Regions from separate parts of the Homo sapiens genome. Here region 2 is linked to region 1. Evidence: fine-mapped expression QTL. Tissue or cell type: whole blood. Region 1 holds a variant in brackets; the other region holds the start of a gene. All regions are shown on one strand. Distances are between the middles of the regions.

Region 1 (5,000 bases):
TGAAGTTGCCATGGGCTGTGATGAAGTTCACTATGGCAGCCACCTCCGGCTCCGACTGAGGGGAGGGCCCGTGATAAGTTTCTGAGCAGGGGTTGCTGTTAGAACCATTTCCTGGAAGTAAAATAAAGCCACCCAAAGAGTCAAATCCCCACGTGCGACACAGACGGTGCTCACAAAATACCTGTGTGTTCCCCTACATTTCCCAGCCTCCTTTGCAGTATGACTGAGGTCATGTGACTACTTTGACCAATGGAAAGGTGAGCAGAAATGACACGGCACTTCTGGGTTGAGATTGTTAAGAGCAAGTGTGACTTCTCCATGCTCTTTTCTGTCTGTGTGGCTGGAAGCAAAAAAAAAAAATTCTAGATAGAAACAGCCTCCTGGATCCCTCTCTCACTGCGGAAGAAAGCCGCCAAGGAGAGTCACCTGTTCATGTTGGACTTTGTGTGCATGAAAAACAAACTTTCATTGTGTTAAACCACTGAGATTGGGATGGATATTTGTTACTGCTGCATCCTCTAATCTAATATGTCAGAGGACTGCAGCCGCACCATACCCTGCAGTTCTGAAGCCCTGCAGGGAGCCCCCTCGGCTTGTCCTGTGGTCCCTTTAGGAAGGTGGGCCTGGCTCAGAAGTTGCATCCAGAGGAAACTGTAAGTCTCTGCCCCAACCCTGGCTTCCCCTAGTGAGCAGCAAATGCCTTTAGGCTGACCGTTCCTGGGTGTGCCATCAGTTGAGGGCTCAGACTCGGTGTCAGCTGAAGCTTTGCCACAGCCATGGCCCCAGGTGCGCCATGAACTTGGGGTCTGGGGATATGGGAAACCAATACGGGAGAATAGTTCCCCATAGTTGCCTGAGGCTGTTCTGGGAGCCAGAGGTGCAAAGAAGTCTTTGAAAATTCTTCTTGGGGACTTAAGATGAGGGAGAGAACAAAGAGGAGCAGGGCTTTTATTCTTTTCCCAAGTTTCATTTGTTTCCATTTCCCCCTGGACTCTTTGCCTTCGCCCCATCTCTGTCTTCCTCTTCTGCTCCTCCTCTGCTTTTCCCTTATTCCTGAGGGGAGGGTTGGGCTGTGCTGAGCTGGTCAAGACTTTGTAGGCTAAGGACACACTTGGAAGGAGTCATCCCAGTTTCTCCTCTCTCTCCTCTTCCCTGGAATGTTGGCACCGTCCAGAGATCAGGGATCGCCTCAACTTCTGAAGTCTCCTGAGGAGGCCACAGCATTCCTCTTGACTCCTGGGGCTGGGGGCTGGCCCATGGACCACTTCAGATGATGCTCTAGGAATGCAGCACACAGGTCCTCCCCAAGAATGCACAGGAGGCCAGGCACGGGTGGGAGGGATGGTCTACAGGTTACTCATTACACAGCCATTCAATTAAGGCAATAACAAAACCATAAACAAAATCATCCAGCCTGAGTCACCAACCCAGACACACACTCTTGCTGGCCCCAGGGAGGCCCAGGGAGCGCGCCCCTTCTCGGTTTGGTGGTCCTCACCTGGGATGGGGACCCTGGTTAGAAGGGGATGTGCCGGCAGAGCTAGGGGGTGAAAGGCAGCCCCCAGGCTGGAATCAGCCCATCTAACAGTGGCCTTGTTTGTTATGTCTGCCAGGAGCTCCTGCACCTGCTCCACTTGATGAATGACAAACAGCAACAGATGCGCAGAGCGGGGGGAGGTTGAAGGCTTTGTCTGCCTTTGCGGCCCACGCACAGAAAGCGGTTCCCCTGCCAACGACCAGGTGGCTTTGCCCAAATATGGAGAAACACTTTAGGCCATTAGTTCTGGTTTGAGCTAAGCAGAATAAACTAATCTTCCCCTGGCCAAATGGGAATTGGCTGCCTGCATCTCTGACGTTCACAGTCAAGGTCCTCTGAGTCCGCCTGTTTCACAAGTACCTGCTAATGGATTCATTAGCTATTTATTTTTCCTTCTCTAAAAATGTAATTTGTAGCAAGGGGAAATCTCTGGAAGGACATGGTAAATTATTAAAAGCAGTGATCTTTGAGTGGTGGGATTATGGGAGCTTTTTGCCCCCTCTGGGCTTTTTTCCATAATTGTTTTGTACACTGTGTGTATATGGATATTTTTTTTCCTGTGGTGAGACCCACAGAAGTTATTTTCTTTAAGAGGTAATTTATCTTTCTACTAGCCAGCCTATCTTGGGATCCATGGGTACTCACTCCAGTCAGTGCTGAGGGGCCACATGGATGCCCCCCCTGAGGCAAGCGTCTGTTCATTTGGAGGTGGAAATGCCTAATTTTGCATGGTCTTGTTCCATTACACAAGCAGTTACAACCCCCACGCTAGGGCCAGGGACCTCACTCTCAGTGCTTTGGGGCCATCCTTATTTTTCAGTGAGAACAGACCCCAAGAAGCCAGATTTTAAAAGCAATGGGCATCCAGATCTAAAATGTTCTATCTCATTGGTTGGGACACCAGCCTATAGGTCTGATTATCAACAGCAATGACACCGTCCCCTGTGGAGCCAAACCCTGAGCCCC[C/T]GGTGAAGTGCAGATGCCATGTCTGGGGGCCGAGGGCTGTGTCTGTTCTGGAATCTCTGTCATGACTGGACCCATCAAATTGTCCTGCCCATCAAATTGCTGTATTTCCAGGGTCCATGGACCTGTCTCTGAGCTTTCTGGAGGCCTCAATTTCCCAATCCCTGTGCCCCTTGCATGGTTAGGGAGATAATCAGGGAAGAACACCAAGGAACTCAGGAGAAAGCTGCCCCCTCCCCCTCACTGGGATCAGCCAGCTCTGCAGGTATGCACCAGGGTCATAAAGTAATGGGTCAAAAATAAAAATCAGGCTCAAGCCAGCCTTGTTGATAAAGAATTGGCTCAAGGCCAGGTGTGGTGGCTTATGCCTGTAATCCCAGCACTTTGGGTGGCCGAGGCGGCTGATTGACTTGAGCCCAAAAGTTCAAGATCAGCTGAGGGAACATGGTGAAACCACGTCTCTACAAAATTTTTTAAAAATACAAAAATTGGCTGGGCGCAGTGGCTCATGCCTGTAATTCCAGCATTTTGGGAGGCCGAGGTGAGTGGATCACCTGAAGTCAGGAGTTTGAGACCAGCCTGACCAATATGGGGAAATTCCATCTCTACTAAAAATACAAAAATTAGCCCAGCGTGGTGGTGGGCACCTGCAATCCCAGCTACTCAGGAGGCTGAGACAGGAGAATCATTTGAACCCAGGAGGCAGACATTGCAGTGAGCCAAGATCACGCCACTGCACTCCAGCCTGGGCAATGGAGCAAGACTCAGTCTCAAAACAAAAACAAAAATTAGCTGGGTGTGGTGGTGTGCACCTATGGTCCCGGCTACTTGGGAGGCTGAGGTGGGAGGATCACCTGAGCCCAGGAGGTCAAGGCTGCAGTGAGCCATGATCACACCACTGCACTCCAGCCTGGGTGACAGAGTGAGACCTTGTCTCAAAAAAAAGAAAACAAGAAAAAAAAGTGGTTAATTCTATTGGACACTTGAAACTATTGCCCTGGCCTCCCCAGAGGGCAGATTTCAGGTCCTAGCTCTCGGGGAAAGAGTTCAGAGGCATTTCTTCATGTTGTGCTCCCTTCAGGGCAGGGCTAGGGATATTTTAGGAGCACCATAAACTCTGGATTTTGAACAACAAGCAAGGCTACTTTGTACCTCCTTTAAGTCTTTCTCTGTCATATTTAGGATTTGACTCATGCAGTTAGTCCTCATTTCAGGAGCTGGGGCTCCCCTAACTGTTTCCCGTGAAGGTTTGGCACATGTGTACACTCAACACACACACACACAACCTCTCCCGTACCCACAGCCAGTCTGAGGTATGTGCTTGCCTGTCCCTGGCCGTGACTCATGCATATTAGCTGACTACATTGTCCCATGCCTCCCAAGTTGAGTCAACATAATCTGACTGAGTGGGAGAACCTGCCATGGGCCAACACCTCTTCTCCAACCCTGCCCCAGGACAGCAGGTTGCCATACCTCCAAAACCCGACTTCCAGTTCCTGTTGAGATCCACGCCGATGCAGAAGATTCCAGGTCTGATGGACTTGTTCTTCCGCCATAAGCGGTTCTGGGAAAGCCCAGGACAGGTGACCTCATTCACTGGGCCCATTCCCAGGGATGGGAGCCTCTGATATCCTGGCCTATGGGGGTAGGGGACCCTAGTGGGGCAGGGAGGAGCAAAGGGAAGGAATTGCCAGGACAGGATGGGGCTGGCATGGGGCTGGGCCAAAGATGCAGCTCAGATACTGTGCAGTTGAAGTCAGGGTCTAGGGAGAGGCCTGGGCACAGGCTGCCAATAGAGGCCTTCCCTGGGCAGCAAGAAAGAGGTCAGAGGGCAAGAGGCTGCAGGTGCAGTACCTGAGCAGCCCTCCTGCCCTTGGTGAGGGCTTCTGCAAAGAGGCTCTGAAGGGGCTGGTTCCCAAAGCACAGTGACCTTTTCTCCATCCCCCTAGAGCTGACCCCCTCCTTCCATCCTTCCCAGGTTCCCTCACCATGCTGTGGGTAAAAGCAAACCCATCAGGGTTTGTGACGAGCTCTATGAAGATGTCCATGGCATTCAGTATGTCTGTCAGGACACGGTCTTTGCCATAATCACTGACAATCTGCAAGAAAGAGTGAGGAGGGATGGGAGGCCCTACTGGGTCTCCTGGGAGGTGGCACAGGACATTTTCACAGCCAGTGGCTGCAGGAAGGGATGGCATGAAACCCCTGAGGTATATCTTTTATGCAGAACCAAAGGCTTGGATTTTAAACAACTAGAAGGCAGGGGATCAATGTGGGCTCCGTGCTGCAAAAGGTAAGAGTGCACGGTGGCTGCTCCAAAGGGCGGGATGGAGACAGCACCCTGAGTGTAACTGTTGAACTGAAGGTGCCCTTAAATAGTAAGTTCCTGCCCCCAGTTGCAGCCCCCATCGTGGGTGCACCTTGGCTACAGGTCCATGCTGACCTTATTGGCAGTCCAGATGCCGGTGGCATGGGTGATCCACTCCCGGGAGTGAATTCC
Region 2 (5,852 bases), 21 kb after region 1:
TTGGGGAGGACCACCAACGAGCCAGCCCCGGAGCATGAAAGTGGGAGGCTGTGGAGCTGGAAGTGGGTTCAGGACAGGAACCCACATCCTGACTCTCCGCCTTGATCAGGCACCAGCAGGGCAGCCACCTCCTGCTGGGACACCCAGTCCCCTCCTCCCAGCCAGTCCTCCCTCCCACTGTGGAGCAGCCACTCACCCTGTGAAATTCATTTGGCCCAAAGCTGCTGCCAGGATAAAGCTGAAGACCAGGAGTGTCCGCCTGTCCACGGGGGATGGCCCAGGGCGCGTCCCGCCTCCAGGGGTGCCCTGCATGCTTCTTCCTCCTGGTGAGCTTCAGGGGCTTTCCTTGGGCACCATGGCCCAGGCCTCAGGACAGCACAGCACCTAGAGGCTGGAAAGCCCAGCCTGAGAAAGAGCATTAGGCTGTCTGGGGCACCCAGCATGTGGCTCCCACATGCCAGGCCTTGGGAGAGCTAGGGCTGCCCCTCCCCAACCCAGCACATCCTCTCCTGGGAAGGGGAGAGGGAAGAGAGAAGGAGGAAGACAGGCCTTAGCTTTTCTTTTCTCTCAGGAGGTTTGCCAGGGCAGCCCCTTGTGAGCATCAAAGCTTCCATCTCTGGAGAAAGACCAAAGTAGCCAGCAGCCCTGGGATACCCCTCCTTTCCTCCCTCCTCTACAGCATCTTCTCTTTCGCTCTTCTTCTCCGCCTAGCCCACTCATGCTTTCCCTGGGCCATATCCTCCTTACACATAAGGTGTGGATGCCATTGAAACACCGCTGGACTTAGAGACAGAGACTGGGTGCTCACTTCCCGTCTAAAATATCTGGGGCAGCTGCCCTAATCTCTAAATCTCAGTTTACTCATCCATCAAATGGGGTTAATCATACCTCCCCTCCCTACCTCACAGGGTTTGAAGGGGTATAGATGAGACAACTTGAGTGAATTGGCTTGGTAAAGCCTGCAAAATGCAATGTATTATTATTCAAAAGGCATTAACTTTTAGTCACAGCTGCATTTGAGATCAGTCCTCCAGTGGCGATGGGGAGAAGGGGAAGAGAAGAGAATGGAGAGGAGAACAAAGGAAATAACTATATATTGTATGAGAAGGAATTCAATCAAGATTCCCTTTTCTCTGTCTTCAGGTGGTCATCATTGTGCTAGCACAGACAGTGGGTTTTCTGCTAGACATGAAGGTCACCGCAGTCATTATTAGAGTTCTCAACAGACAGCAGAGTCAATTTCTCAGTCCTGCTGAAGCCCCACACAGTTCCCTTTATAGTTTGGGAATAGCAGGAGTAAAGCAGGGGCCAGCACACAAAGCAGTCATGTTGGAAGGAGAAAGTGAAAGATGATGCCTGAATGGCAAATGATGAATCTAACAGAAAATCCACAGGGGGTGGGGGTAAGGCAGAAGCTGAATCCAACCAAGTCGTTCAGCAGAGGACGTCAACAATAGGCCACTTAACTGTCACTGGCGATTCTCAGAAGCTCCCCCTCCCCATCCAAACTATCTCAGAATGGCCGATTAACTGGCTATGTGTGCAAAGAAGGGAGCTCGTTTATCGACAGAACGCCCTGCTCCCCCACCCACCTGCCCTACTCCATTATTTCGTAGTTCAGCTGTTCAGACAAGCCAGACTCTTCTAGTATCCTGGCTTCAGGGACTCTCAAACAGTAACATTATCAAAGGGTTTAAGGACATAGAAAAGAAAGCAGTTATGCTTTCCACCCAAGTAACATTCAGCTTCAGTAGCAATGGAGATAAAAGGGTGTACTGCTAAACAATAGCTCAGGAATTTAAAAGGAAAAAAACAGAGATAGTGCTAGTCACCAAAAGTACCCATGGGGCGTCTTCTTGTTCAAAAACATCATTTTAAGCCACCAATGATGAGACAACTATCCCTGTACTTGGCTTAAGGGTGGGAAAAGAGAGAGAGTGAGAGAGAAAGAATAAGAGTAAAAGAGAGAGAGAGAAGCAGTTAGGAAGTTTTGAGAATTCTATGACATAGCTTCCAATAGAACTTTCTGTGATAATGGAAATATTCTATGTCCACACCCCCCAGTAGGATAGCCACTAACCTCTTGAAATGTGGCTATTGTGGTTGAATATTGATTTTGGAGTTGTATTTAACTTTAATTAATTTAAATAAAATTTAAATAGCCACATGTGGCTAATGGCTACCATATTGGACAGCAGAGTTCTCTGGGAATTCACCAACCCTGAAAGCACCATCTCCAATGGCTGGATTTGTTTTTGGTTTTGCTTCTTCTAAGTTCATGTTAGACGGGTAATGTGCTGACGTCATAACAAGGTTTGAGGGTGACACATCTCACACACGCATGCGTGAGCACCCAATTATCATACTTATGAACTGCAATTATCAGCTTATGGCTGGATTTGAAGCGGAGACACATAGCTATGCTTGACCTAATACCTCATTTTGGCTTTTCACTTATAATTAATTACTCACCTAATCATTTACTCAGTAAATGTCCTCTGAATACCTGCTATGTTCCAGGCACTTGCTAAAGTCTGGAAACAAAATAGAAAGCAACACATATCTGGCCCTTACATTTCTAAAGGCGTAAGTAGAAAATTAATTTAAATAGCATGAAGATAATTGGTAAACCCAAGACATAATGGTAGCCCATCTCACTCCAGATAAGTGTAAAACTATAGATGGTGTTTGTGTTACAAGGGAAAGGCACATTGTACCATGAGGACGGGGAACATGGGCTCCACATAGACTGAAGGAGAGTTTCCCTAAATTAGAAATTTTTTTGGAGGACTTTTATTTCCTGCAGGTGGGGTGGGTTAGATACCTAAGCAATCTTGCCCAAATGAAAGAACTCAAATGCAGAAGAAAATATTTTTAGTAACAACTTTCTAAAGCCATTGCTGGGTTGGCACAAAAATAAGAATCTATAGATCCCAAAAAGAAGGAAAAGCCAGACAGACACCCAAGTGGTAAGCAAGTTTTGCCTCAGAGAACTTCTCAGAATGCTGGTGTTCTTGATTTTCCTACTGGATGCATGTACCATGTATCTAGAATCATCTTCCCTCTGCTTCAAATCTATCTTTTCAAACCTTCCTTTAGTTAAGGTTTCTGTTTTTACTTATTTGAAAATTTTTGGCCAGGTATGGCAGCTCACATCTGTAATCCCAGTGCTTTGGGAGGCCAAGGCAGGAGGAGCCCAGGAGTTCGCTTGAGCCCAGGAGTCCGAGACCAGCCTGGGCAAGTCAGGGAGACCCTATCTCTGCAAAAATAAAATAAAATTAGCTGGGCATGGTGAGGCACGCATCTGTAGTCCTAGCTACTCGGGAAGCAAGCAAGCAGATCAACTGAGCCCAGGACTTTGAGGCTGCAGAGAACCATACTCCAGCCTGGGTGACAGAACAAAAACCTATCTCAAAAAAAAAAAAAAGAAAAAAAGAAAAAGAAAAGAAATAAGGAAGGGAGGGAGGGAGGAAGAGAGGGAGGGAGGGAGAGAGGGAGGGAGCGAGGAAGGAAGGAAGGAAGGAAGGACAGACAGAAAAAAAAAGAAAGGAGAGAGGGAAAGAGAAAGAAAGGAAAAAAAAGAATAAAGAAAGAAGAAAGAAAAAAGAGAAAGAAAGAAAGAAAGAAAGAGAAGAAAGAAGGAAAGAAAAAGAAAGAAAAGAAGAAAGAAGAAGGAAGGAAGGAAGAAAGAAAGAAAGAAGAAGAAAGAAAGAAAGAAAGAGAAAAAGAAAGAAAGAAAGAAAGAATTATTTTGCTCTCATTCTTGAAAGGGTTTTTTGGGATAGAAATTCCAAGTTGATTACTGTTTTCCTCTCAACACATTGAAAATATTATCCCACAGTCTTCTGGCTTCCATTTTTGCTGCTAAAAGGTAATGTTTGTTGACTTACTGTTCTTCAGAAGGTGACCTCTCTTTGTTCCTGGTTTCTTTGAAGAGCTTCTCTTTGCTTTTGATGTTCCACAGTTTTATCATCGTAAGTCCAGGTATGGATTTTTTTTGTTTTGTCTTGCTTGAGAATCATTTGAATTCCTGTATCTGAGTGTCACTCGCTTTCTATTATTTTCCAAATTTCTCAGCCATTATATTTTTAAACATTGCCCCTTTTCCTCTCTATTACCTTCATCTGGAACTTTTGACTGGACCTCCTCATTCTAGCCCCCAAGACTCATAAGCATTCTGCTATATTTCCATTGTGTGGTCTCTCTGGGCTACATTCTGGATAATTTATTAGTAAAAAATATTTTTGTCTTTATTCCAGTTACCTGATTCTTCATTGGCTGAGTTTAATCTGCAATTTAATTGATCTGTGAAGTTTTACCTTTCAATTGCTACGGTTCATTGATTCTGCAACCTATTTTTTTCACATTTTTAACACTGCTAAAATCAGGATACATCTTACAATTGGTGGCATCTTGCAATGCTAAGGTGGCACATAAAATTATGGTGCATCTTATAAAATTGATCCTGTTTTATAGTCAATGCAATATGATATTCATTTTTCATTTTTGGAAGTTCTATTTGATTCTTTTTTTCTGATTCAAGCCCAAATGACTTGAATTTCTTATCTATTTTAGAATTTCTTATTTCTTTAAACGTATAAGACAGATATTTTATATTCTGTGTTAGATAATTACAATTCCTAGATGTTTTAAGTCTGTTTCTGCTGCCTATTCTTTCCGCTGGTTCTCACTCATGGTGCATTTTCTCTCATGCCACATACCTGTGAACCAATCATTTTCCTTGAACATTTATCTGTGAGAATCCCTTGAGGCCTGGGTTGAAGGTGGGTTCTTCCAGAAAAGATTTGCGTTTACTTCTGTAAGTTGCTGGGGACACTACCAACCTGCGACCACTCTAAATTAAATAATTTAAGATTTTTTTGGGGGACTGCATAGTTAGCATAAACTTAAACCACAAATTCATGTCGGGGGCTTACTTGTGGTTATGAAATCTCAGGAAATATTTTCCCCGGCATCATCTAACACCAAAGTTTTAAGTCCTGGACAAGAATAGCATGTTATCTGCAAGTGGGTCATCAGAGTTAAAGTGTCTTTAAGGTCCTGGAATTATTGGGAGAAAGGAGAGATATTGATAATTTTTTAGATTTTGGTAAATATGCGTGTTCAAATAGCTAGAGCAACAACTAGAAGAATAGGCCCAGTGCACATAACTTTCAAACTCCACTAAAAATACAAAAATTAGCTGGGCATGGTGGTGGGAGTCATCCCAGCTACTCGGGAGGCTGAGGTGGGAGAATTGCTTGAACCCAGGAGGCGGGGGTTGCAGTGAGCCAAGATCATGCCACGGCACTCCAATCTGGGCGACAGAGCAAGACTGTCTCAAAAAAAAAAAGAAAAAAATACTAGCTATATGGTTTCACAAGAGGCACTCTTAAAACATAAGAAGAAAGAGAGACTCAAAGTCAAGGATGGAAAAAAGATATTCCAAGTAAATACTAATAAAAGAAAGCATATAGCCACGTGCAGTGTCTCGTGCCTGTAATCCCAACAATTTGGGAGGCCAAGGAGGGACGATCACTTGAGGACAGCAGTTCAAGACCAGCCCAGGCAACATAGGGAGACCCTGTCCCTACAAAAAAATAGAAATAAGTTAGCCAGGCATGGTGGCATGCACCTGTGGTCTCAGCTACTTGGGACACCCCTTCTTAAAAAAAAAATCAGGAATAATTCTAACAAGCAATGTGCAATCCTCCCTGTTCTGAAGTAAGCAGGTATATGCAAACCTGCCCCCAAAGTCTTAGGAAGCTGAGAGGTCCAAGAAAGAGGCTGACAAATCTGTTTTTTAGAAAGAAACACTTAATAGGGACTTACAAGCAGAAGCCATGTCTGTG

What was found. PIP is the estimated chance that this variant, and not a neighbour inherited with it, causes the effect.
Region 2: CPA5 starts here. The variant in region 1 is the best candidate, but not a certain one, in a credible set for the expression of CPA5 in whole blood (TOPMed, PIP 0.76).

What each region holds. Positions count from the first base shown.
Region 1 is chr7:130,362,483-130,367,482 of GRCh38, reverse strand. CPA5 (carboxypeptidase A5) reads right to left here. Exons shown (of 13, transcript NM_080385.5): 8 at 4,944-5,000; 9 at 4,489-4,599; 10 at 3,974-4,064; 11 at 1-111. LOC105375504 (a long non-coding RNA gene) reads left to right here and starts at 356. Exons shown (of 2, transcript NR_133928.1): 1 at 356-653; 2 at 1,614-1,833. RefSeq lists a silencer at 1,376-1,425 and an enhancer at 1,496-1,997. The variant C/T (reference allele first, on the strand shown) is at 2,504.
Region 2 is chr7:130,340,946-130,346,797 of GRCh38, reverse strand. It overlaps CPA5 (carboxypeptidase A5), which reads right to left and starts at 1,982. Exons shown (of 13, transcript NM_080385.5): 1 at 1,593-1,982; 2 at 902-959; 3 at 197-405. The coding sequence starts at 312. All of the region lies in intron 1 of LOC105375503 (a long non-coding RNA gene), which reads left to right. LOC124901837 (small nucleolar RNA U13) reads right to left here and starts at 2,383; the gene lies at 2,280-2,383. RefSeq lists an enhancer at 1-790.